Linked DNA regions of Homo sapiens: regions 1, 2, 3, 5 and 6 are each reported to be linked to region 4. The links are microRNA targets in miRTarBase. Many come from high-throughput screens and were not tested one by one. Region 4 holds a microRNA gene; each other region holds the end of a gene's coding sequence.
What was found. The annotated mature microRNA hsa-miR-99a-5p reads AACCCGUAGAUCCGAUCUUGUG and lies in region 4 at 1,186-1,207, shown strand. An mRNA with a match to its seed (bases 2 to 7 or 8) in the 3' UTR can be bound and repressed. Matches are read on the target gene's strand: a 7mer-m8 pairs with bases 2 to 8, a 7mer-A1 pairs with bases 2 to 7 and ends in A, and an 8mer does both.

Region 1 (4,106 bases), not on the chromosome of region 4:
TTCCAGGGACATCTCTGCATGATGTTTACTTGGGAGGGCCCTTGGGGTCAGGGAAGGAAGAACAGGGAAGGGCAAGAAAGGAAGAACAGGGAAGGGCAAGGAAGGAAAAGTGCATGAAGGAAGAAGTTGAGCCAAGATTTAGGCCCAAAGATCGGCACTGCTGACTACCCAGGGAGGGAGCTTATTCTACAGCTCTCCTGAGAGGTACCAAGTTGGGCGAGATGGCCGTGCCTTTATACCCCCACACCAATCCCATCCGCTGGCTGTGGGCTGCCCCAGAAAGGGCATGACCTTGGGCGAGGGGGCCCTGCAGCAGCTGGGGAAGTCCTTCCCCGGAGGACCCTCTGAGTGGCCCATGTTCCCATCCCCCACCCCCCAGCTATCCGTCCACTCAGGCCCCGCCCACAGCCCCCCACCCTCCGTCTCAGTTCCCCTCCCCTCGTCCTTAGCACGTGTTGCTGGCTCATTGCAGGTTGACCAGATGTTCGCCGCCTTCCCCCCTGACGTGACTGGCAACTTGGACTACAAGAACCTGGTGCACATCATCACCCACGGAGAAGAGAAGGACTAGGAGGGGGCTCGCTGCTGCGCCCTGGGCTCGTCTTTGCAGAGTGGTCCCTGCCCTCATCTCTCTCCCCCGAGTACCGCCTCTGTCCCTACCTTGTCTGTTAGCCATGTGGCTGCCCCATTTATCCACCTCCATCTTCTTTGCAGCCTGGGTGGCTATGGGTACTTCGTGGCCGCACATCCTACAGTTGGAAATCCATCCAGAGGCCATGTTCCAATAAACAGGAGGTCGTGTATTTGGTCACGACATTTCTCTGACAAACAGTGCCTTGTGTAAGGAAGGCAAAGGCAGATGAGCTAGTGACAGCCTTGCAGTCATTATTATTGAATCTTGGTGACTCTTTATTTAAGGTAGACCTTTGCAGCCACTCAGAACTGTTTCTATCAAGGATCACGTTTTCCTGGAATGTTACCTGGATGACCAAAGCCCTCTCTTCCAAAGAGCTCAAGCATTTAGAGGGCCTTGCTTCCATGACATCTGTCCCTTGGGATGCCATCGGAATGCCTCTCCTGCCAGTGACAGTGACAAGAAGGAAGCGGACTGACACATGGTAGGAACATAGCTCGTTCAACAGTAATCACACCTGCTAATCCTAAGAGGGTGACTTCTAGTTTCAGATAAAGTAGAAGTTGTCTGTACTTCTTCCCTAGCAAACTGAGGGAGTGGTACTGACTTCTGTCTCTGTCTGGGGCCCAGGCCTGGATGTGAGTTGACCTTTGATTTTGAATGACCACAGTCACGGTTGAAGCATTCAGGTCTGTTATGGCTGCAAGAGTCCCAGTGTAAGAAACAAATAGGGCCAGGTGTGGTGGCTCACGCCTGTGATGCTAGCGCTTTGAGAGGCTGAGGCAGGAGGATCACTTGAGCCCAAAAGTTTGAGACCAGCCTAGGCAACATAGTGAGATCCAATCTCTATAAAAAATAAATAGCCAGGCATGGTGGTGTGCACCTGTGGTCTCAGCTACCCAGGAGGCTGCAGTGGGAAGATCGCTTGAGCCCAGGAGGTCGAGGCTGCAGTGAACTGCACTCCAGCCTGGGTGGCAGAGTAAGACTCTGTCTCTTAGAAAAGGAAAAAAAAAAAAAACAGAAATAGGTTCAAATAACTAAGAAGTCCAAGGGCTTCAAGCACAATTGCACCTAGGAGCCCAGGCAGTGCCCTCAGAGGCTGGGGAGGCCTCTGTTTTCTGTCACGTTGCTCTGCTCTCAGCAGTGGCAAAATAATTAAGAGCAGCTCCTGCCCCTTTTCCAGCCCCTCAGCAATCCTAGAAGAGCGTACTCCTCTCTCTTCCAGCTCCACACAAACATCAGAACAGGGCCTTGTGGGATCCCTCTGGGGCACTTGACACCCCTGAGCCAATCACCATGGACTGGCAAGGGCAGTGCTCTGATGGACAGGCCTGGCTCAAATGATCAGCCCTGTGCTGGGGTTGAAATCAGAGTCCTCCTGAACCATATGGCCTGGAGATGGGAGGGAAGATTCCCCAGAGGAAAACCCAAGAAGAAGCAGGGAGTGGACTTCGGGTACTTCAAGTTTTCAAGAGAATCCCAAGAACCCTCCCAGCACTTTGGGAGGTCGAGTCAGGCAGATGGCTTGAGGTCAGGAGTTCGAGACCAGCCTGGCCAAAATGGCAAAACCCCGTCTCTACTAAGAATACAAAAATTAACCAGGCATGGTGGCACATGCCTGTAATCCCAGCTACTCAGTAGGCTGAGGCAAGAGAATCACTTGAACCCGGGAGGTGGAGGTTGCAGTGAGCTGAGATCACACCACTCACTGAGCTGAGATCACTCCAGCCTGGGCGACAGAGCCAAACTCCGTCTCGGAAAAAAAAAAAAAAAGAGAGAGAGAGAGAGAGACTCCTAAGAACCCAAGAACCCAGGACACAGCCCAAGTCAGTGATGTGATGGGAAGAAGCTGAAATGTGGTGACGGAGTGGAGCTGGGGTCACAGTGAAGGCAGGAGGACCCAGGAGGCCAGAGGAGCCACAGTTAGGGCCAGTCCTCAAGGCTTGACAATGACAACAGTGGGAGGAGCTCAGGGCTGAGCCATTAACAAGACGAATGAAACTGTCCCCTGGCTGCAGAGACCTGGGGCCCCTTTCAAAGCAGGCTGCGTGGGCAGGGACCCAGGGGAGTCATGGCCCCATCCCCATGACCCAGGACACCCCACACCCTGTGGTGACCCTCGCCCCTCACGGCTTCCCTGCACTCCAGAGTTGGTCCAGGCCGAGAGCCTCATACCCGGGCTCCTGTGGTCAGAGATGCAGTCCGGCACCAAGAAGGCGGGACTCAGGACACTCCAGGGCAGTGCGTGGTTCTGGGCAAGACACCCTGGACTCAGCTCCACAGTGACATGCTCACCCACGACAGACACACGCAGAGACAGAGACATGCAGAGACACACAGAGAGATACAGAGATGCACACAGATACACAGTGAGCTGAGATCACACCACTCACTGAGCTGAGATCACTCCAGCCTGGGCAACAGAGCCAAACTCCGGCTCAAAAAAAAAAAAAAAGAGAATCCCAAGAACAGGTACAGACTTGCAGAGACATACAGAACACACAGAGACAGAGACACAGGGACATACAGAGATGCACACAGAGATACAGAGACACACACAGATACAGACACGCAGAGACACACAGACAGGGACACACAGAGACATACAGAGACACACACAGAGACACAGAGATGCACACAGATACAGACATGCAGAGACACACAGAGAGAGAGACACAGAAACATACAGAGACACACACAGAGACACACAGATAGGGACACACAGAGACACACACAGAGAGAGCCACAGAAACATACAGAGACACATAGACAGGGACACACAGAGACATACACAGGTGCAGACATGCAGAGACACACAGAGACAGAGACACAGAGACATACGGAGATGCACGCAGATACAGACATGCAGAGACACACACGGACACAGAGATATACAGAGACACACACCGGTGCAGACACGCAGAGACACACAGAAACAGAGACACAGAGACATATGGAGATGCACACAGATACTGAGACACACACGGGTACACACATACATGGACACACAGACACAGAGACACACTCAGATACACAAAGAGATATACACAGACATATATACAGACACATAGATACAAACACACAGAGACACAGACACTCAGAAACACAGATATACACACATGTACACAGACACACCCAGAGTAGCAGATCCAGCACGCCCCCAGCTCCCACTTCCCATTTGTGAGTGTTTGCCACACCTCGGGTGGCCAGGGGCGTCTCAGGATCCACACTTTGGCTCCAGCATGGCCCCTCCCCCGGGCTAGTCCCTGTTACATCTGGTGGACCGCATCTGCATCCATGTCTCTGCATATCTGGGGGTGGCCTGTGCTGGTCTCCAGCTCAGAGGTTTCCAGGGGCCTTGATGGACTCACATGGTTCCCACTCCCTGTTCCCGCTTTTACTTCTCGCTCCTCGGCCCCAGCCCAGAGGTGGCCCCAGTACCCAAAGCCCTTAGTAATGTGTGTGACAGGCA
Region 2 (4,091 bases), not on the chromosome of region 4:
GGGAGCTAGAGCGAGCTTGTGCTCTGTGGAAATGTCAGTAAGAGCAGCCTCCCTGCACCCCCGCTGCCTCTTTCCTGGGCCTGTCTTTGTCTCCCAGGTAGGGGAGCATCAGCCAGTGGCCTTGCATCCCTGAGTTGTTATATTTCAGGGTCTCAGCCCAGTGCACAGGCCAACCTAATGGACACACCAGGGGGCAGGGAGGAATAATGCACTGCTTTCCTCCAACCCAGCCCTTCCTGCCTCCTCCATGAACACCTGATGGTGCTAGCCCCAGAATCCACTCAGGACACCTCCTAAGGGGAACAAAGAGCCTGGCCCAGTGTGTGCCACCCTCCACCCCATTTGCCATTGTCATTGAAAGTGACCGACCCTGCCCCAGGCCAGGCACCTGCTAGGTTTGCTGGCCACTCCTGGGGAAGTCATCTGTTTCTGATTTTTCCCTGTATGGCACTTGTTCTACAGGGCACGGGTAGGGGTTGCGATGTTAAGGAGAGAGCCAAAGAGCTCAGGGCAAACTGGACTCAACATGGAAAGCGGAGGACCCTTTAAACAAGCAGAAAACACGTGGAGCAGAATCCCACACCCTAGGCCTGGCACTACCACCAGAAAGCAGGACAGGTCTGGGATGGAGACTGGTCCTCAGGGAGGTTCTATGTCCAGAGGGAGGGGCAGAGCCACTCTTAGGTTGGGAGTTCTCCCAGCCATACAGAGCAGGTTTTAAAGGCTCTGTCCCTCTGATCCTAACCTCTCCTTTGTCTAACCTGATTTTGCTAGCAAGGGTATCCAAAGCTTTCAACCACAAGGAGGCTGTTAGGGGAGGGGCAGTGGCATTGCTGGGCAATGGCTGTCATGTGCCAGATTCTGCTAGACCCGTCTGGTCTTAGGGTCCTCCCAGCCCTGAGTGGGCCTTAAATTCCCTCGGGCTTCATAACGGCATTTCGAGAAGAGGCGGCTTTACTCCTATGACGTGGGGTTTTGGGGCTCAGCCATTCTCTCTGTGTTCTTCCAAGCCATACTGCCAGTCACAGGAATGGAGAAGCCGCTGGGCCCTCTACCATTGGATGGTACTGTCACCTGCAGTGGAATAGTGGGAGCCTGGCCCAATTTGGAACACAGTTAAATTTGTTTCCCTGTGAGGCTGTTCTGGTGAAAGCCAGAGGATTTGGGTTTCACTCCTATTATGTTCATTTTAAGCTTGCAATTCAAACGAATTTTCCAGGGCTAGAGGAATTGTTCCTCTGCATTTTTTTTTTTTCATTAAACGCCTTGCATTCTACCTCTTAACATTTGCTGGTGGGAGGATCTGCCTGAAGGTCCCTGAAGCTCTTCCCTGGGCCACTCAAGGAGACGCGGTCAGCTGGGTCAGGAGGAGCCGCGCTGTGAGGCAAGGCTCTGCTGTGGCCAGGTGCCCACCTGCTGCCTGCCGATTCCCGCCTGACATCCCTGTCTCAAGCCATACTATTCCGCTACACCCCTGTCCCCAAGGAAAGCTGGGCTTAAGGGATGTGGGGCCACCTGGGCAGGAGCATCCCCCAATAGACTGTGGGATGAGAGGATAAACAATGGTGCTGCTTTGTCTTGTGATCTGGGTCAGGAAAGCAGGCATTTGGGAACTGGCCCTTTTATACCTTTTCTAGCCCCTTTGGGAGCCACCCTCTCCTGGGTAGGCCCTAAAGTCCCATCCAGCCCCATTTTCACAGCAAGGAAGGAAGGAGAGGTAGCCCGAAAGCCTTGGCTTGGGAATAGCTCTGTCAAAACACCCAGAGCCTCAGTGAGATGATCTGGAAACGCCCAGGCATCCTCAGGACCAGAGAGGCTCCCTTCCCCCACTAGGGATGTGGAACAGATGGGAGGACATCAAAGAGGAGGCCCCTTTACTGAGGGATGCCCTGCTCCCACCACAGGCTAGTGTTGGGTGCCAAGCCCTATCACCAGTCAGCCAGTCCCAGTTTTGGAAGTCAATGCTGGGGCTTGCTAGAAAGAGCCTGGCCTGGGAGGCAAGAGGCATGGTCTGGCCTCTAGTCTGCAGAAGCCCCTCCACCTCTCTGGATGTTTCCTCAGCTATAAAATTACGGAGTCAGATGAGCTACTCTCTTTTTTTTTTTTTTTTTTTTTTTTTTTTTTTGAGACAAAGTGTCTGTTGCCCACACTGGAGTGCAGTGGCGTGATCTCGGCTCACAGCAACCTCCAACTCCTGGATTCAAGCGATTCTCCTGCCTCAGTCTCCTGAGTAGCTGGGAGGGACTACAGGCACGCAACACCATGCCCAGCCAATTTTTGTATTTTTAATCGAGACGGGGTATCACTATGTTGGTCAGGCTGGTCTTGAACTCCTGACCTCATGATCCACCCGCCTCAGCCTCCCAAAGTGCTGGGATTACAGGCGTGAGCCACCGCGCCCGGCCTGGATGAGCTACTCTCTAAGGTTCTGCCTGGCCCTGCGTTTTCTGTATTCTGAGCCAGAACCCAAAATGACTTGCCTCGGTAGCCCCTGTTCGCAGACTGAAAGCTGATGCCTGGCTCTGGGGCCTCTGCCAATGCTTGGCCCAGGCTGAGTCGGCTGTTTCATCCCTCCTACTGCTGTGAAAGTGGAGAGGGGGCCAACTCTCCAAACCCAAGGCACTGGTCACAGGAAGGCAAGCTTTGATGTCAGGACTCCCGTCAGGCCCAGCTAAAAGGCTTTGGACTTCCCCAGGAGTCTCCTCAGACAGAATGGCTCTGTGCTAACAGAAGGGGACTCATGAGTGCCTTTTTCTGGGCAAGGCTGCCAGGGGAAGGGGAGTGATTAGCAGTGTGTGGCATGCAGCGGGGTGATGACACTGAGGGGGTCACTGGAGTGTGAATGTCATTCCCCCATCATCGTCAACCAGGCCATATTGGTACAAAAGGTGTCTTTATTGAGGTCTGGGTTAAAATTAGGCACTTGGCCAGAGCAGCAGCTTAAATATGAGGCAAGCAGTCAGGGGTTAGCCATGCCTGGGGCTGGGTTGGGGTCATGAGGCTACAGGCACAGACTGTCCCCAGGTGGACAGAAGTTGGAGCAGGAAGAGGAGGAGGAAGGGGCCGCAGAGCAGCCTGGGTCAGAGGCCTGGTGGGCCAGCCCAGTGGGACTAGGCAGGAAGCTCTGGGTGGCAGGTCCAGCAGGGAGGGGACCAGGATCTCTTGCTCCACGTGCCCCTTAGACCCAGGCCTGAGCCTCTGGCAGGGGCAGCCGCACTTGGCAGGGCGGTCTTCCCAAGCCTCACTTCTTCACCTTGGCATCGTAGGTGCCTGCATTCTTGTAGGCGCTCACGTAGCCACTGTCGTCCAGGATGTCCTGCCGTCCCGCAATGCCCTTGCCCTTGCCGCTCTCATCGAAGCGCTCCTTGTGGGAGCCCGTGTATCTGCTGGTGTCCGTCAGCCGGTCTACAGCACCCCCTGTTTTTGCTTTCTGTTTGGACAGAGTTTCCCCAGGGGCACCTGATGAGGGAGCCCAGCCCTTCCCACCCACAGCCACGATTCCCCACACCCCATTCCGTGGCCACCCGAGACCAGCAGGGCACTTACAGTGACGCCCACATTGGCTGGCTCTTTGCCTGCCACCAGCTGGCAGATGGCATCGAAGGCCTCCTCCTTGCTCTTCCCCTTGAATCTCTTGGTCGCCAGCTCTTCCAGGGCCTTCTTGAACTCCTCATAGTTGATGACCCGAGCAGACTTCCCCCTGACAGGCATGTGGGCACCATGAGGGTTCCCCTTTCTTTTTTCTCCCCCAGGGGAAAGCTCAAACACATTTGCTGCCACCACAAATTATGCAATTGCGTTTCTTTCCCACGTTTGGGGAAGTCGCAGGGGTCAGCAACTCTGGAGGGCAATAGATATAAGGTTTGCCCTGGAAGAACGACCTTCGTGATCATGGTGTTTCCCTGACCCCTTCTTGATGTCCTCCCTGGTTCCAGCCCCCCAGTTCCCCACCTCCTGGGAACATGAGAAGCAGGGGCTGCTTAGGGCTCACTTGACTTTGGAGAAGACGATGTCCACATCGGTCCCTGTCACGGACTTTCCGTCAGCCACCTTGCAGTCCTTGCACAGCTTGGCCCAGTTCTTGCCATTCA
Region 3 (4,106 bases), not on the chromosome of region 4:
TTGCGGCGGTAGTAGGGGAAGCGGTCACTAATGAAGGCGCAGATGCCGCTGAGCGTGAGGCGCTTGTGCGGGCTTTGCAGGATGGCCATGGTGATGAGCGCGATGTACGAGGAGGGGGGCTTTGCCGGCTGCCGGGCATCTTCAGAGGCCGCCGCAGACCTTGGCGGTGCCCTGAACTCGGTGCCAAACTCTGAGGGGTCGCTCGGGCCGCCGCCGCCCTCGATGTGCTCTCGGGGAAGCGCAACCCCGCCCCACCGGGCCACCTGCAGCCCCGGCTGGAGCGACTGCTCTAGGAACTGCTGGCTCGCCGCCTCCTCCTCGTCTTCATCTTCCTCCTCTCCCAGGACATCGATTTTACCGTCTTCCCCATCGGAGTCCCGGAGGCTGCGCTGCGGTGTGGAGCGAAGGCGCTCAGCTCTTGGCAAGTTCATGGCGGAGCAGGTGCTTCAGTCGCAGGGGATGTGGCGGCCGGATCACCTGGCCCCGGCGGGCTGAGCTGGAAGCCCGGGATGAATGTTGCAAGAAGCAGGAACGCTAGTGGTTACCCTTTGGGATGTTTTCCTCTGCTTGTTTCTACGCCTTTGCAACAACGTCCGGCAAAGATGCCTTCGCCTTTTATAAAAGCTTCTTCAAGACCATGTGTGGTGGACGCCTCCCTTTATAACCCTTCTTCCCCTACCTCGGAGCGGTGCCACTTCCTCCTAACGTAGTCCAGGGATGATGGTCTTCTGGGCAAACACCGTCCGGAGAAAAGCCCAGCGCCCTCCTCCTCGCACCCACCTGCCACCAAGGAAGATGCTCTACTCATCCGGTGCAGCCAGACAGTAGGCAAGCCTTTGCACGGGTTCTGTTAAGGCGCATTTAAACCCGCGCAAATAAAAGCGAGGTAGGAAAGTAGGATACTCAACATTCTACGACCACCTCGACATGCAGCCTTCCCGCCTGGAGAAAAGAAATGGTGGGGTAGGAGGCTGAAATGTACACGGTTGTTTGTAAAGGAATGTGTAACCGTGAAAGTATGTTTTTGTGTTTCACAGCTGGTAATCACCCATTTTCATTGGTAGAGTCTGTCCTTACCCAGAATGGTGAGCTGAATTATATTTAAGGTTCTGACAATATTCCCAGGCTTCAGGGGGGTGTTGCTTTGCTCCTTCTACCTTCCTTCCCACCTCCCCAAGATGCTCTCCCTGACTCAAATTTTCAGAAAAGGTTCAAATGTCCCAGCACTAAATTGTGTAAGTTTATTCAGGGAAGGCAGGAGAGCTCACACGGAGTCCTCTGTCCCCTTGTAGCAATGGTTCTCCAATTTCTTTGAATATTTAACCACAGAAATACATTTTATATCACAATCTTACACATACAGACATAATACATAACTAAGATGGCTTTCACGAAACAATATACTTACACTATAGTGATCACTGATATTTCCTTTTAAAAAAAAATGGCCATAACCAACTAAATTGATTTCACACATACCAGTATGGGCCCAGTTTGAAAAATCCTGTTCTTACAAAGTGGCCCCACATACAAGAAATGCACCCACTCTATAAGGGCTTCTCTCTCTCCCTTTCCTCCTTCCTTTCTTCATCCTTTATAACCAATTCATTTTTAGAGACAGGGTCTATGTTGCGCAGGCTGGCTTTGAATTCCTGGGCTCAAGTGATCCTCCCGCCTCAGCCTCCTGAGTAGGTGGGACTACAGGCGTGCCACTATGCCTGGCTCTGGCTCTTCATTCTTTTTTTCCTTTTTTTTTTTTTTTTTTTGAGGCGGAGTCTCGCTCTGTCGCCCAGGCTGGAGTGCAGTGGCGGGATCTCGGCTCCCTGCAAGCTCCGCCTCCCGGGTTCACGCCATTCTCCTGCCTCAGCCTCCCAAGTAGCTGGGACCACAGGCGCCCGCCACCGCACCCGGCTAATTTTTTGTATTTTTAGTAGAGACGGGGTTTCACCGTGTTAGCCAGGATGGTCTCGATGTCCTGACCTCATGATCCGCCCGCCTCAGCCTCCCAAAGTGCTGGGATTACCGGCGTGAGCCACCACGCCCGGCCTCTTCATTCTTTCAGAAATGTCAACATTAAGTGCTTTTACTGTAATAAAACTTGGGACTTCAATGAGGCAAGAAGGGGCTGCAGTGTTGCCTTTAAATCAGTGGGTCCTCATTCACTGTCTGCACTGGGGAGGGGCAATATGACAGCACAACTGTTCATCTCACTCGCTCCACATCCTTAGAAGTAACACGATTTTTAGATTGGCTTCATGAAAATTAGCTCAGAGACTAAAGTAGCACTACAGAGGAATAAAAAAAATATTTGTTATATAAATAAGGATCTTATTAAAATACTAAGTAAGATACTATGCCACGGTATATATTCATAATTTAAAACCCACCTACTTGGGAAAACTTTGAGGTGCCATCTAATAAAAATGCAGCATGAAAGAATATTATGCCCTTGATAGTCACATAGTGTCTATAATTATGACAATGAATGTTCAGTGAGAAATCAAACGCCAACTGCAAGGGCAAAATATAATAAAAAATAGCTTAAAGTAGCTAGTGCCTTCAGGATAAAATCTGGAAAAGGGCTTTCTTGCTGATCTTTTTTTGAAACTTTGCTGCTCCTGAAGTTTTTACCCTTTAAGGCTCCTCAGTTTATATGAAGCTTGGAGGACAAATAACAGACAGGTTTGAGCCTAACAGATTTGTTTGAATCCCAAATTTACCAATGACTGCTTGTGTGACCTACTAAACTAAGCTCCAGGAGGGCCAGGCCAGGTGTCTTATTCAACCACAAAATCCCAGCGCCCCCAGCATGTGAGGCAAATTTCCTCCATCAGCATAGGAATCGGATGACCTGGGAAAGGGAGTATTGTTAGTTTTCCTAGCGCCAGCTTCAATAGGGATTGGGGTTATTTAAAAATACAGGAGAAAAGTAAGGAGGCACTCAAAAACAAAACACAAAACCCACATTGATGGGGGTATGTCAAAGGTGGGAACAGGAGATAACGGAAAGAGTTCCCAATGGTCAAAGCTGGGATAATTTGAGCAACAAAATAAAGCAGTATTAAATTGTAACCCAAAGTATAAAATATTCATGTGTCCACACTGATAAACATAAATGATCGAACTAATAAAGCGAAAGGGACAACTGTCCTTTGCAGAAGAATTTCAATTAATCATGTAGACCACTCCCAAGAAAGTACACTACAACTCCCCATTCCTTTAGTGTGGGCTGTGCATAGTGATTTCCTTCCAAAGAGCACAGTATGAAATGGGGGAAAAGAGTAACTTTACAATGGAGAAACCTGACAAACACTCCTTCAGCCAGGTGATCAGGTCGTCAACATCAACATCAATAACAGTCATAACCTTTTATTTCATGTCATAAAATGGTGACACTTACTTGTGTTAAAAAAATTTAATAACAATGTAATCATTATATCTCTGCAATCAGCTGAAGTTCTAAGAAAAAATGACAATGTTGAAAGTTGTATCATCATTATTATAAACTTTCATGTTCAGTATATGTAAACTCCAAAGCCAATTTCAAAAGATATTTTTGTGAAATACCATTCTTTAAAAAAAAGGATATTATATATAACTGTATGAATGTTAAATGTTTTACAGTACTGATTTGCTACATTTTATGTATGCTGTAAAACAAATACCATTTTAAAGTATATTGGAATTCGTAACTAAAGTAATAAATAAATGCTTGAAATATACCCAGTAGAAACTTATTTTTATTATCCAATCCTTTTGATAAGAAATGCCTCTAGTGTTATGTACAAACTTGATCTTCTTGGAAACGTGTTGTCCACTGCTTTTCTGTTTCTGTCACAGTAGCTATAAACAGCTGTTTAAGGATATCCTTATCTAAATTTCTGCCTGCAAACAAAACAAAATATGACGTGATTACATTATGCTTATTAAAATGACACAGTTCACCTATCAATTCCAGTTCATTAAATGCTTTATGGTGTTTAGAAATTTACAAAAAGAATAGTAATTGAGTGATTCCATCTTTAACTTTCCAGGTCAGTACATCAAAGTCACATTGGTCCTTGGATTAACCACTTTTCTAAAACTGAAGAAGAACAAAAGTCCTA
Region 4 (4,106 bases):
GTTGAAATATTTTTACTACAACTGAATGTATGATTGTTGATTATTTACTATAGTTTTTAATAATTATGAGGACAATTTAAGAATAAATAATGGTTTAAAATTATGTAGAACACATGATCTATATAAAGGCTATAAAACGTATTTATTTCAAAATATGCAAAATCACTAAGCAATTAGTATGTAGTATTATTTTACACAATAAAGATATAATTAGGAAATGCTAAGTGATTATAGATGTGAAATGATTAATGATTGTACAACTTATCATTTTGTTGCAGTTGAGTTTACAATCTTAAAAAAACGTGTATGTGGCTGGCTTTATGTTTACTCGTTTGTGTGTTTGCTTGTTGTCTGGTGGTTTAAAACATTTTTTAGTAATATTTTATTTTTGCCCAACCTGTTGACCAGATGAGAGTTGTATGTAGCCATGCATTTTAAGTGTATCTTTTTTGAACAATAAGTTTAAATATATTTTATTTAGGAAAGAAGATATCCTATGTCATGTAATACATCTGGAGTATAAATGTTAGTGTGGAGTATTAGTAATCATGCCATTATCGTGCCATTTAGTTTAGTTTTATATTAACTCATCCAAATATTGTAAATTTTAGCACCATTCCGACTATAGACACAGATGTATATATTTAAGGCTGATAATAACTTCCTGTATTCTCTAGCTAGTGAACAAGATCTTACTGTTTTATGAGAAAGTTATAATGTTACCAATTCCTTGAAACCAGTAACTAAACTAGTTTTATAAAAATTAAAATAAGCACGGTCTAACTCATACACAATTAACTTAATAGTTAATTTGGTTTTAATTATAGGCTCGTAATACTACATTCATGCCTCACAATTATATAATTCATACATGCATGTATGGATTCTTTTTTCTTTTAAAACTCAATTAGAATAGTTTAATTCCAAAATATTTACTATTGAAACAAAAGCAGTTCGTGAAAAATTTTTCAATAAACTACTTTTTAAATTCTCATGCATATAAATTTGTATTTAGTTTTGAATATTTATGAAGGCCTTTAATGGAGAATATGCATCCTTAGAACTCAGCATTTAAAACATTTATACTAAAGGATCAATATTATTTTTGACTCTTAATTGCATCAGATATTTACAACAAATTCTATATTAATAGGGGGCCCATGCAAGATGTTGCCCATTGGCATAAACCCGTAGATCCGATCTTGTGGTGAAGTGGACCGCACAAGCTCGCTTCTATGGGTCTGTGTCAGTGTGGTAATCTGACAAAATGCTATACACAGTGCCGTTCAACAATAGTTCAGTAAAATCCTGTTAAACTCCAGTTGATTATATACTTTTGAAGTCATTATATTTTCCTTTGTTTTTAATGTTTATTTTAATCATTGTCTGTCTTACAAGGCAGGCTTCAATTCTCAACAACTTGGAAGCGTTTATATCACACCCATTCAAGTTCGATTCCATGTACAGTAAATTGCATAAGAAAGTTGAACCTTTATAGCAGGGTTTGGACCAGGATCTGAATAGATTCTGTTCAGAAACTTCAGTGCATACTGTAGTGCTTAGTGTACCTCTTCAACTTCAGTAAGAAAATTAAAGACTACCATTGGATTTATATGTTTTTATTGAGCCTATTTCTCCTGAAAAAATGAGGCTGAATGCAATTGACTTTTACTATTAATTGCGACTAGAACTATGGCAGGTTAGATGGTCAGAAGACATTTTACGTGACCTATGCTGGAAACCCAAGTGTTTAGGTTAGTCCTATGAGAAACAGTTAGCAGCAAAGTTTACTGGTAAAATGTTAGAATATTATATCTATATCCTTGCCAAGCCCTTAGGTGTATGGCTGCCATATTTGGAGGAGCTGACTGAAGATATGATAAGGAGTTTGAAGCAACATTGGAAGCTGTGTGCATCCGGGTTGAGGTAGTAGGTTGTATGGTTTAGAGTTACACCCTGGGAGTTAACTGTACAACCTTCTAGCTTTCCTTGGAGCACACTTGAGCCGTCGAGGAATTCTTCATCACTTTAACCTGATTGAGCCAATTTGTGTGCAAGAAGGTAATGTGTCATGAGTATCTTGGATCATTGATTTGGGCCTTTATTACATTAAAATGATCATTTCAGCCCTATTAGATTATTCCATTTGTATCTGCTTATGAACAATGTCAAAATGGTATTTCTAATGGGTTGTCACTCCATGTTCAAACATTTTAAGAAAATTGTAGGTAGTGACTTAAATTGCATTAATATTAAAGCTTTTTATCATCTATAGATTAACAAAATTCAGACCTTAATTTTCAAATGGATCATTGGTCTATTTATATTGGCTGCTTAGACACTATAATAAAAAATGTCTGCTAGAGTTAATAGCTCCCATAGCACATTATTTGCGTTTTCCTTATGACACATCACTTTCTACCTTATGTTATGGCTATTTATGTGCTTGCTGATTTTTTCCGCACTAGACTGTAAGCCCCTTGAGGGCAAAGTCCATGTTTTATTTTTCACTGTATCCCCTCCAATGCCTTACTCATAATGAGCACTAACTATTTATTGGATTAGTGAATGGAGTGTAAGACCTCACTCTGTGATGAGTTTCTATTGAATATTTGAATGAGTTATGGCAGTGGTCAAACATCTGAGTTTTATTTATTGCTCCTAAAACTGTTTAAATTTAATTCCTGGACTGCTCCGCATCAGTAATACATGTGTCGATTTTTGACTGTGTTGAATGTGTTCATTCATTCTAAACAGATAAGTTAAAATTTAGAAGTACTTTTTATCTAGAATAAAAATAATAGAGTAAATTCATTTTTACTAATTAGTTCATGACAGTTTATGATCCTACACTTAGATAATTCATATTTCTGTTGAATTTAAATACCTTTCTTTCCAGATGAATCGTTTTTCTTTTAGCATCAATTTCAACTAAATATTCTATTTTAAGTCTCATTTAACAATATGATTTTTAAAAATTAGATTTGTGTCTTTTGTGTATTTCCCTCGTCTCCTGCCCTTTATTTTTGTACAGCTATATCTGTTGAATAAACCAGAAGCAACTAAACCAGAAACATGTCAATAAATTAATAATAAATATGTATATAAAGTATAATTTGAGAATGTGAACACATTTTTGTTTAAAGGAAAGGCACTTTATAATATTCTTTGTGTTACAAAGCAAATGGGACTCTTTGGAACCTTAGTTTGCTGTCAACTTTAGCAGCTGTTAGTGGTGTAATTTGTGTAGTGAGGCTATCTTACATAGATCATCTTTCAGACACAGGATTAAGTAGTTGTTGATGTTAGAACTTTAATTTAAGACTCCAAATATGAAACATGGAATTCATTAAAGAGACGTTTAGATGCAAATATATATTAAGGACCTCAAGATACTGGCTATGTGGTGCTGACCTTTCTAGAATGCTCAGGCATCCAAAATATCTTAATACCTAGAACTTGCTAACAATGTAGTGAAGAAGGAATGGCTACCCCCAACACGTAGAACATGTGAGCCTTAGAAAGTGAATACCAGTCACTTCAAGCAAAATAATTTGATTGGTCTACAGTAGTAAAGACTCTTTCTCTCTGTGAAAGAAAAATATTTGCAAGGACTAATCAAGAAGCAATGAATAAGAGGCAGTAGACATAGACCTAAAACAAACAAACAAAAAGACATGAAGAGATGAAAAGGAAAGTGACTCATAGCAAATAGGAACACCATTGTGTCTAATGATGGCAGTTCAACCCACGGATGAAAGAAAGGGACAACTAAATGGGTAAACAATTGTATCTTTATAAATAGTTTTTTCCTTGAGAGCCTAGGATCCCTTTCCTATGTGTTTCTATGTATGTATCTCCCAATACTAGGTGTATTTATTTAGAAGCCAAATCTATTGATGGGCCAAATAGAATATGATTGCCAATAAATGTCTATTTCCTTACAGTGTAATGGAGTTAAGTGCCTCACAGAGGTCAAGTAAGATGTGCAGTTTAAGGATAATCTTACAAAAGTACTATAATGAATTGTTAGAATTACAGCCTCTTTTATATACTATCACCTAAAGTGAATGAGTATAATAGAAGAATAATTGAAGAATGGTGAA
Region 5 (4,106 bases), not on the chromosome of region 4:
TTTTTTTTTGAGACGGAGTCTTGCTCTATCACCAAGCTGGAGTGCTCTATCACCAGGCACTAGGCTCACTGCAACCTCCACCTCCCCAGTTCATGCCATTCTCCTGCCTTAGTCTCCCGGGTACCTGGGACTACAGGCGCCCACCACCACGACCGGCTAATTTTTTGTATTTTTAGTAGAGACGGGGTTTCACTGTGTTAGCCAGGATGGTCTTGATCTTCTGCCCTCATGATCTGCCTGCCTCAGCCTCCCAAAGTGCTGGGATTACAGGCGTGAGCCACCGCGCCTGGCCCCAGTTAATTATTTATAGTCTTTTCTGCCCAGCTGAGACTCTGCTATGGGTAGCCTCTTTGAGACAAGGAGAAGTGATCAATGCTTTAATTAATTTCCAAATATTTAATTTGCTTTTATTTTATTTTATTTTTTTTTTGAGACAGAGTCTCGCTGTGTTGCCCACGCTGGAGTGCAGTGGCGCGATCTCGGCTCACTGCAAGCTCTGCTTCCCAGGTTCACGCCATCCTCCTGCCTCAGCCTCCCGAGTAGCTGGGACTACAGGCGCCCGCCTGGCTAATTTTTTGTATTTTCAGTAGAGATGGGGTTGCTTTTATGTTTTTAGGATACCGGGTTATGATTCAAACCTTGTTCTTTGGGGCTGTTGATAGATTTATTCTTACTGGCTTGTCATGCCTCATTATAGAGTGTATCAGGTAAAGAAGTAATATTAAAATCAGGAAAACAGCAAAATCTAATCATTTTCTTAATTCTTAAATTGTCTTTGTTTTTTGGTTTTAGGTTATGGATGATGAATCAGATGAAAAAGAAGCAAACTCACCTTAAAATAATCTGGATTTTCTTTGGGCATAACAGTCAGACTTGTTGATAATATATATCAAGTTTTTATTATTAATATGCTGAGGAACTTGAAGATTAATAAAATATGCTCTTCAGAGAATGATATATAAATATTGCATGTTTGCTTTACCTCATATGAGTTATTTATAACCTCTTGAATCATCTTCTGTACACGTGGATTTTATCCAAGGATATTTTTATTTTTGTCCCTCATTTCCCATGGCTCTTTCTTTGCATATGTGTGAAGGAGTTTAAAATACATTTCCCCCCATCTAATTTATTTACTTTTTTCCATACAGGAAGAAACAGAATGCTTTTTAGAATATTCTAAAATAGCTTTTTGTGAAATATCTAAAACTATTTTTACTGAAGTTTTTAGCTTAAGAAACAGCTAAACAAGTCTGTTTTAAAAATGGTATCTGGCTACTAGCCCCCAATTAAGTAGCAAAGAACTGCTTAAGACCAAAAAAAAGAAATCAAAAATGTCCGGGTATGGTGGCTAACGCCTATAATCCCAGCACTTTGGGAGGCCGAGGTGGGCAGATCACGAGGTCAGGAGTTTGAGACCAGCCTGAACAACATGGTGAAACCCCGTCTCCACTAAAAATACAAAAATTAGCCGGGCGCGGAGGCACGCGCCTGTAATCCCAGCTACTTAGGAGGCTGAGGCAGGAGAACTGCTTGAACCCGGGAGGCGGAGGTGGCAGTGAGCTGAGATCACGCCACTGCACTCCAGCCTGGGGGACGGAGCGAGACTCCATCTCAAAAAAAAAAAAAAAAAAAAAAAAAAAAAAGGTGAAAAACTTGAAAACTAACTCCCAGAATCTGGACACAGTTTCTATTGGTTAAGATGGAGATGGCCAAATTAGAAAAACTGCCTCAGCATGCCCAGCCTTTACCTTATCAATCAGAATTGCTGAAGAAAAGAGAAGAAGCTGCTTTGGTCCTCCCACTGGCTTCTGACTCAGAGATCCAAAATCTGTACCATGCCAGAAGTGTGCATCATTATTTTTGTACTCTAGGGGTACTGCTTTTTCAGGTAGCCAAAAGAGTGATTTAGCCTCCTCTCTCATTTTTCTACAGTAATTCAGAGACTGCAGTTAACAGAAAATACAGGGAAAGGAAAGATGGGAAAAATAGTTGTGATGCATTGCATCTCTGGAATTCTAGTCCCTCAAATTAAGGAGATTAAGATAGTGATGGAAACAGGAAGAACTCTAGCAGTTGTGAGTGCTGGGAATTGAAGTTTTTACTTTTATCCTTTGGTTCACTGAACCAAATAGTAGGGTTGGAGAATTCATTCCTTGAGATATCATGTATGAATTTAATTTAGACACTGGGAATTGCTTCATAAGCAAGGCAACTTAACCTGCCCTTTAGTTGAAGCTACAGGAAATTGACATCGTGGATGAGATGCCAGTAATGGCAGATCTTGTATGTGGCCATGAAATAAGTGGCTGAATTGGATGGAGGATTAGTTTATTAGAAGAGAGGAAATTGGCCTGGCGCAGTGGCTCATGCCTGTAATCCCAACACTTTGGGAGGCTGAGGTGGGTGGATCACTTGAGGTAAGGAATTCGAGACCAGCCTGGCCAATGGTGAAACCTTGTCTCTACTAAAAATACAACAATTAGCCAGGCAAGGTGGCATGTGCCTGTAATCCCAGCTACTCAGGAGGATGAGGCACGAAAATCCCTTGAACCTGGGAGGCGGAGGTTGCAGTGAGCTGGGATCGTGCCATTGCACTCCAACCTGGGTGACAGAGCGAGAGTCTGTCTCAAACAAACAAACAAAAAAACAGGAAATTATTCAATTGAGAGGCCAAAGAGGAAGAGAGGAAAGATTTTCTACAAAAGCAACAGCCATGAAGAACAAGGAGGAAAGGTGTGGGAAGAACATTCTAGGCATAAGAACAGTATAATCAGAATTGTAAGTGTGAAATGTATTTGGGAACCTCAAGAAACTAAGTATGGCTTGAGTATAAAGTGAAAATGGTGCATGAGTAGGCAGTGGTAGTATAGAGAGTGCCACAGAAACTCTTGGTTGCCTACCCAACATACACCCTCACTTCTTGTTAAGGAAGGCACTCTCAGTAGGTCTCACCTCAGTCCCAGGGGATAGTTATGATTAAACCAGTCACTTTAACTCCATTTTTCTTTTCCAGTCATTAGTCTGTGGGTAGCCATATGACCTAGCTCTGGCCAGTAAACTGGAAGAGAAAGTCTATTGGAGAATTCTGGAAAGATTGTCTTTCCTAGTTAAGAGAGTGTGTATGTGAGTTAATCTCTGGAAAGAAGGCTCTTTTTTTTTTCCTCCATCCATTCCTTTTCTTCCTGCTTGGTACACTGTAGAGTGTGATGTTCAAAGCAATGACAGTCAACTTGTAATCATGACTAAAAGGTGGTCCACTGAGAATAGCAAAGAGCAAAGAAAGGGTCTGGATCCTTGGCCTTGCACGGTGGCTCACACCTGTAATCCCACCACTTTGGGACACCCAGGCGGGTAGATCACTTGAGGCCAAGGGTTTGAGACCAGTGTGGCCACCATGGTGAAACCCCATCTCTACTTAAAAACACAAAAATTAGCCTGGTGCAGTGGCACATGCCACCTAGTAGTCCCAGCTACTAGGGAGTCTGAGGCTTGAGAATCACTTGAGCCTGGAAGGTGGAGGTTGCAGTGAGCCGAGATCACATCACTGCACTCCACCATGGGCGACAGCAAGACTCTGTCTCAGGAAAAAAAAAAAAAGGGTCTGGATCCTTGAGGCATTGTTGGCCTTTTGGCCAGACTAAGAATTACTCACTTTCAGAGTTTATATGATGTGAGATAAATGTTTTTCTTGTTTTAGCTATTGTTATCAGGTATTCTGTAACTTGAAGCTGATTGCATTCTGAGAGACTGGTAAATGATGGAGGACTTGGTAAATACTTTTACCGATTTTTCATTTGTGGTAAACTGCCAAATGTCAACCTTAAAATGAAAACAGGCCGGCCGCGGTGGCTCACACCTGTAATTCCAGCACTTTGGGAGGCTGAGGCGGGTGGATCACCTGAGGTCAGGAGTTCGAGACCAGTCTGGCCAACATGGTAAAACCCTGTCTCTACTAAAAAAATACAAAAATTAGCTGGGCATGGTGGTGGGCGCCTGTAATCCCAGATACTCGGGAGGCAGAGGCAGGAGAACCGCTGGAACCCAGGAGGCAGAGGTGGCAGTGAGCCGAGATCACGCAACTGCACTCCAGCCTCGGTGACAGA
Region 6 (4,000 bases), not on the chromosome of region 4:
TCAGGTGCTAGCGAGTGACGCTGTCCACAGGTGGCGCGTTCTGCCTGGCACTTGTGTGATCTGGGCCTTCTTCCTCCTTCTTCTGTCCCAGGCAGGAGATGGACAGCCTGCAGCGCCAGATGGAGGAGCACGCCCTGACGGTGCACGAGTCTCTGTCCTCGTGGACGCCGCTGGAGCCAGCCACTGCCAGCCCTGTGCCCCCGGGGGGTCACGCCGGCCCACGCGGCGACCCACAGAGACACAGTCAGAGCAGGGCTTCCAAAGAAGGGCCGGGAGAGTGACTGCTGTGGACTCGCCTCCGTGCGCCGCTGCCCCAGAAGGCTCTTATCAATGTTATTTATTTGATTGTGTGGTCGATGTTTTTCTAAGACATGAAATTTAAGTTTTGTTTTGCCTTTAACAAGAAGTAAAATATATAGCAGAATGAGAGCCAAGGACTAGAAAAACATTCGAAGATCACAATTAGCTTTTCACATGGAATGACCAACTCTTAAAAGCCTGATAGGCTCTCGGCGAGGAGCTTTGAACGTGTCTGAAGGGTTACTTGTAGGTCGTGGCTTCTGAGCGGCCACCGATGCTGCTCTCTGCGGGTGACAGGGAGAGGCTGCGTAACTGGGAGCAGCTGTGTGACAGGGTCTGCGGCACCGCGCCTGGCCAGGCCGGCTGCAGTTTCTCACTTCCCTGTTCCATTCAGTAAGAGCTTTACTTTTCCGCAGAAATGAAATTTTATCTGTACCTTTGGCTTTTTACTTGTTTTTTTGGATAGCCATCCCACCATAGGATGTGTACATAGATACTGAATATCATAATCCAATCTTTGTTTTTTTTTTTTTTTTTTTTTTGAGACAGAGTCTCGCTTTGTTGCCCAGGCTGGAGTGCAGTGGCACACTCTCCGCTCACTGCAAGCTCCGCCTCCCAGGTTCATGCGATTCTCCTGCCTCAGCCTCTCGAGTAGCTGGGATTACAGGCGTGCGCCACTATGCCAGGCTAATGTTTGTATTTTTAGTAGCAATGGGGTTTCACCATGTTGGCCAGGATGGTCTCGATCTCCTGACCTCAAGTGATCTGCCCATCTCAGCCTCCCAAAGTGCTGGGATTACAGGCGTGAGCCCCTGCGCCCGGCCTGTCACCCAGTCTTTAAGAAGCATATGCTCATGTTATTGAAGAAGAACCTACTTATTATTGATTGCCTTTTGAAAATTTGTTGGGAATAATTTACCTGCAGGATTTAGGGATAGTCAGAAAATTCTAAGAAATATAATTATTTTATTTACCTTCTAAAGCCAAATATTCTTACACAGAAAGGTCCTCTGTTGTTCTGGTTTTACTTTGTTGCTGAGGATCTTTCCTTCCTGCTGGTCTCTTCCTCTCAGGCCACTGGCCCTGTGTGATTCCACCGTGGCTGGCCACTGGGAAGGGGCAGCTTGGACCCTTGGTCAGGCCTGACGGCCATCAGGAGGCACAAGGACACTGAGGCCCCATATCTGATCTGACCTTTGGGGGGGCACAGGGAGAGGCCGGTGGAGGAGGAGGAGGAGAGCAGACCAGGGGCTCCCTGCAGCGACTCCCGCGGTTTCCCCTGGAGTCAGCCAGGTGTAGGTCGCAGGCGGTAACAAACCTCACACTCCTGTTCCCCAAGTGAAAATCTTTACCATTGTCTGTGGGAGCGCCTGTACTCGTGTGTAGGAGCACCTGTACTTCTGCAGTCATCGAGAAGTCCTGGATCTTTTGTGGTTACACCAGCATCATGTGGCAAGCAGAGGCGACTTCCGGAAGAGACAGGCAGGCACCGTGAGGAAGGTGGCTGTGCTCTCCCAGGTGTCTCAGAGACAGATGCCTTATTTAAAATCAGCACGACATGTGTGAGATCTTCTGTTTCCTACCCCAAATCCTGAAACCCTGCAGACACTGGCTGACTGGGAGAGGTGGGGTCTGTAAGTTGTCCCCTAGTTTGCTAAGAAAATCTAAAATAATATTTATTATATGAGTTAGGAGAGAGAGAATGGGTCCGCGTGGCCTCCTCTGCAGATGTACTGGTCTGAAATGAGGTTCTGAGTCACTGGCCAGGCCAGATGTGCTCATGTCGGTGTCTGGTGTCTGTTTTGTGGAGAAAACAGTATGGTGTGTTTTAAGCTATTTGTGTTCTGTTGTAATATACTTTTAGAAGGTTAATTGGTAAGGTTAAGGTAGCATTAACCACAAAGATGTTTGGTATTTAAAAAATATTCTCTAGCAAATATTGGAATTTCCAAAATATATCATTTGTACAGGGTTAATTTTGAAATAATACTTGAAAATTTCATTATAAATATATCCTACTTTTTATCTTAAGTTGAAGATGTTATTTACTAAATTGTTCTTGTACCATTAGAAAAAAAAATACGGCAATTTACGTTCTTATTTATTTTGGCTGTACTACCCCTTTGTTTTAATTTTAAAATCAAGAAATCGGGCCGGGCGCGGTGGCTCATGCCTGTAATCCCAGCACTTTGGGAGGCCGAGGCGGGTGGATCACCTGAGGTCAAGAGGTCCAGACCATCCTGGCCAACATGGCAAAACCCCGTCTTTACTAAACATACAAAAATTAGCCGGGTGTCGTAGTGCGCACCTATAATCCCAGCTACTTGGGAGGCTGAGGCAGGAGAATCACTTGAACCCAGGAGGCGGAGCTTGCAGTGAGCCGAGATCGCGCCACTGCCCTCCAGCCTGGGCAACAGAGCGAGACTCCGTCTCAAAAATAAATAAATGATTTTAAAAAATCTAAAATCGAGAAATCACACATTCAGTGGGGAGCGACTTCTCCTTGCTTATGGGAAGTCCTCAAGTGAGTGATGTTCACCATGTATTTTTTTTTCTCTTAGGACAGACTAATTCTGAAAATACCGAAGGAAAAGTAGCTCTATGTTCTCACCCCGGTTTTCCTGCGTGTGTGCCCTTGGGTGCGATGCCTCCCCCAGCGCTCTGTGGTCGCCGGTGCCAGGGCCCCCTCTGGTTTGGCAGGGCCTGGCTGCCTTTGCTCCCTGCAGTGAGTCTTTTGGTGTTTTCATGCACGGCTTGTGCTTCTGGATCTGAGGCCTCTCGTGTTCACGCGGACACTTCCTTCCTTAAGAAGACGCCTAAAAGAGGAAGTTGGAATTTTTTTTTTTTTTTTTTGAGACAGAGTCTCGCTCTGTCGCCCAGGCTGGAGTGCAGTGGCGTGATCTCTGCTCACTGCAAGCTCCGCCATCTGGGTTCAAGCGATTCTCCTGCCTCATTCTCCCCAGTAGCTGGGATTACAGGTGCCCGCCACCACACCAGCCTAATTTTTGTATTTTTAGAGGGGTGGAGTTCCACCATGTTGGCCAGGCTGGTCTTGAACTCTTGACCTCAGGTGATCCTGAGCCTCAGCCTCCCAAAGTGCTGGAATTATAGGCGTGAACCACCGCCCCCGGCTGCAGTTGGATTTTTAAATTGCTTTTTTTTATTGTTGAGGTTTTTTTATCTCCAAGGGACTCTCCCGGCACTTCTACCTTCCAGAGTTACTTCAGTGCATAAAGTTTGAATTATTTTGTTCTTGTGGGCAGAAGTGGGAATGATGGAATATCCTCACGGAAAAGGCAGTGAAGTTGGGAGTACTGCTTACAAAACAGGGTCACCAGTGCATTATGTGGCGTGTTCATCCCCACGCCGTGTGTCACGGGCTAGGGCGGCGTGTTCATCCCCACACCGTGTGTCACAACAGGCTAGGGCACTTCACGATGTCACTACTTGTTTTTCTGATGTTCCAAAAACAACGTAACTTGGTTTTCATGTGTTTTTCCGTGGTATATGTGAGATTGATGCTACGGGTCTTACGGACTCACACCCGTTCCCACTCTCTGCAATATGGATCAGGCAGTGTTTCTGATAGGATGTGAAATGGACTCTCCTCGGGTGGGTCCAGCAGGGGCCCTGCCCACCAGAACACAGTCCGTGCTGTGCTGCGCTAAGGAGCTGGCCCTCAACTCTCCTTGGTGCAGGG

Region 1: the mRNA of MYL2 is a reported target of hsa-miR-99a-5p. The part of its 3' UTR that is shown has no 7-base or 8-base seed match.
Region 2: the mRNA of TPPP3 is a reported target of hsa-miR-99a-5p. The part of its 3' UTR that is shown has no 7-base or 8-base seed match.
Region 3: the mRNA of ZNG1A is a reported target of hsa-miR-99a-5p. The part of its 3' UTR that is shown has no 7-base or 8-base seed match.
Region 5: the mRNA of NFU1 is a reported target of hsa-miR-99a-5p. The part of its 3' UTR that is shown has no 7-base or 8-base seed match.
Region 6: miRTarBase lists GOLGA3 as a target of hsa-miR-99a-5p. Seed matches in the 3' UTR shown: 7mer-m8 at 3,823-3,829.

What each region holds. Positions count from the first base shown.
Region 1 is chr12:110,907,542-110,911,647 of GRCh38, reverse strand. It overlaps MYL2 (myosin light chain 2), which reads left to right. Exons shown (of 7, transcript NM_000432.4): 7 at 473-803. The coding sequence ends at 571. Among named protein-coding and RNA genes, the nearest start is that of MYL2, 11 kb to the left of the region's middle.
Region 2 is chr16:67,386,933-67,391,023 of GRCh38, forward strand. TPPP3 (tubulin polymerization promoting protein family member 3) reads right to left here. Exons shown (of 4, transcript NM_015964.4): 2 at 3,992-4,091; 3 at 3,547-3,700; 4 at 2,877-3,430. The coding sequence ends at 3,242. It also overlaps the pseudogene RNU1-123P. Among named protein-coding and RNA genes, the nearest start is that of TPPP3, 4.5 kb to the right of the region's middle.
Region 3 is chr9:117,689-121,794 of GRCh38, forward strand. It overlaps ZNG1A (Zn regulated GTPase metalloprotein activator 1A), which reads right to left. Exons shown (of 15, transcript NM_018491.5): 15 at 3,149-3,885. The coding sequence ends at 3,779. It overlaps FOXD4 (forkhead box D4), which reads right to left and starts at 729. Exons shown (of 1, transcript NM_207305.5): 1 at 1-729. The coding sequence starts at 431. RefSeq lists an enhancer at 1-324.
Region 4 is chr21:16,537,916-16,542,021 of GRCh38, forward strand. It overlaps MIR99A (microRNA 99a), which reads left to right and starts at 1,174; the gene lies at 1,174-1,254. All of the region lies in intron 6 of MIR99AHG (mir-99a-let-7c cluster host gene), which reads left to right. MIRLET7C (microRNA let-7c) reads left to right here and starts at 1,913; the gene lies at 1,913-1,996.
Region 5 is chr2:69,392,977-69,397,082 of GRCh38, reverse strand. It overlaps NFU1 (NFU1 iron-sulfur cluster scaffold), which reads left to right. Exons shown (of 8, transcript NM_001002755.4): 8 at 793-957. The coding sequence ends at 837. Among named protein-coding and RNA genes, the nearest start is that of GFPT1, 7.8 kb to the right of the region's middle.
Region 6 is chr12:132,769,386-132,773,385 of GRCh38, reverse strand. It overlaps GOLGA3 (golgin A3), which reads left to right. Exons shown (of 24, transcript NM_001389683.1): 24 at 92-4,000. The coding sequence ends at 281. Among named protein-coding and RNA genes, the nearest start is that of ANKLE2, 9.6 kb to the right of the region's middle. RefSeq lists enhancers at 1,385-1,584, 3,676-3,845 and a cis regulatory region at 3,760.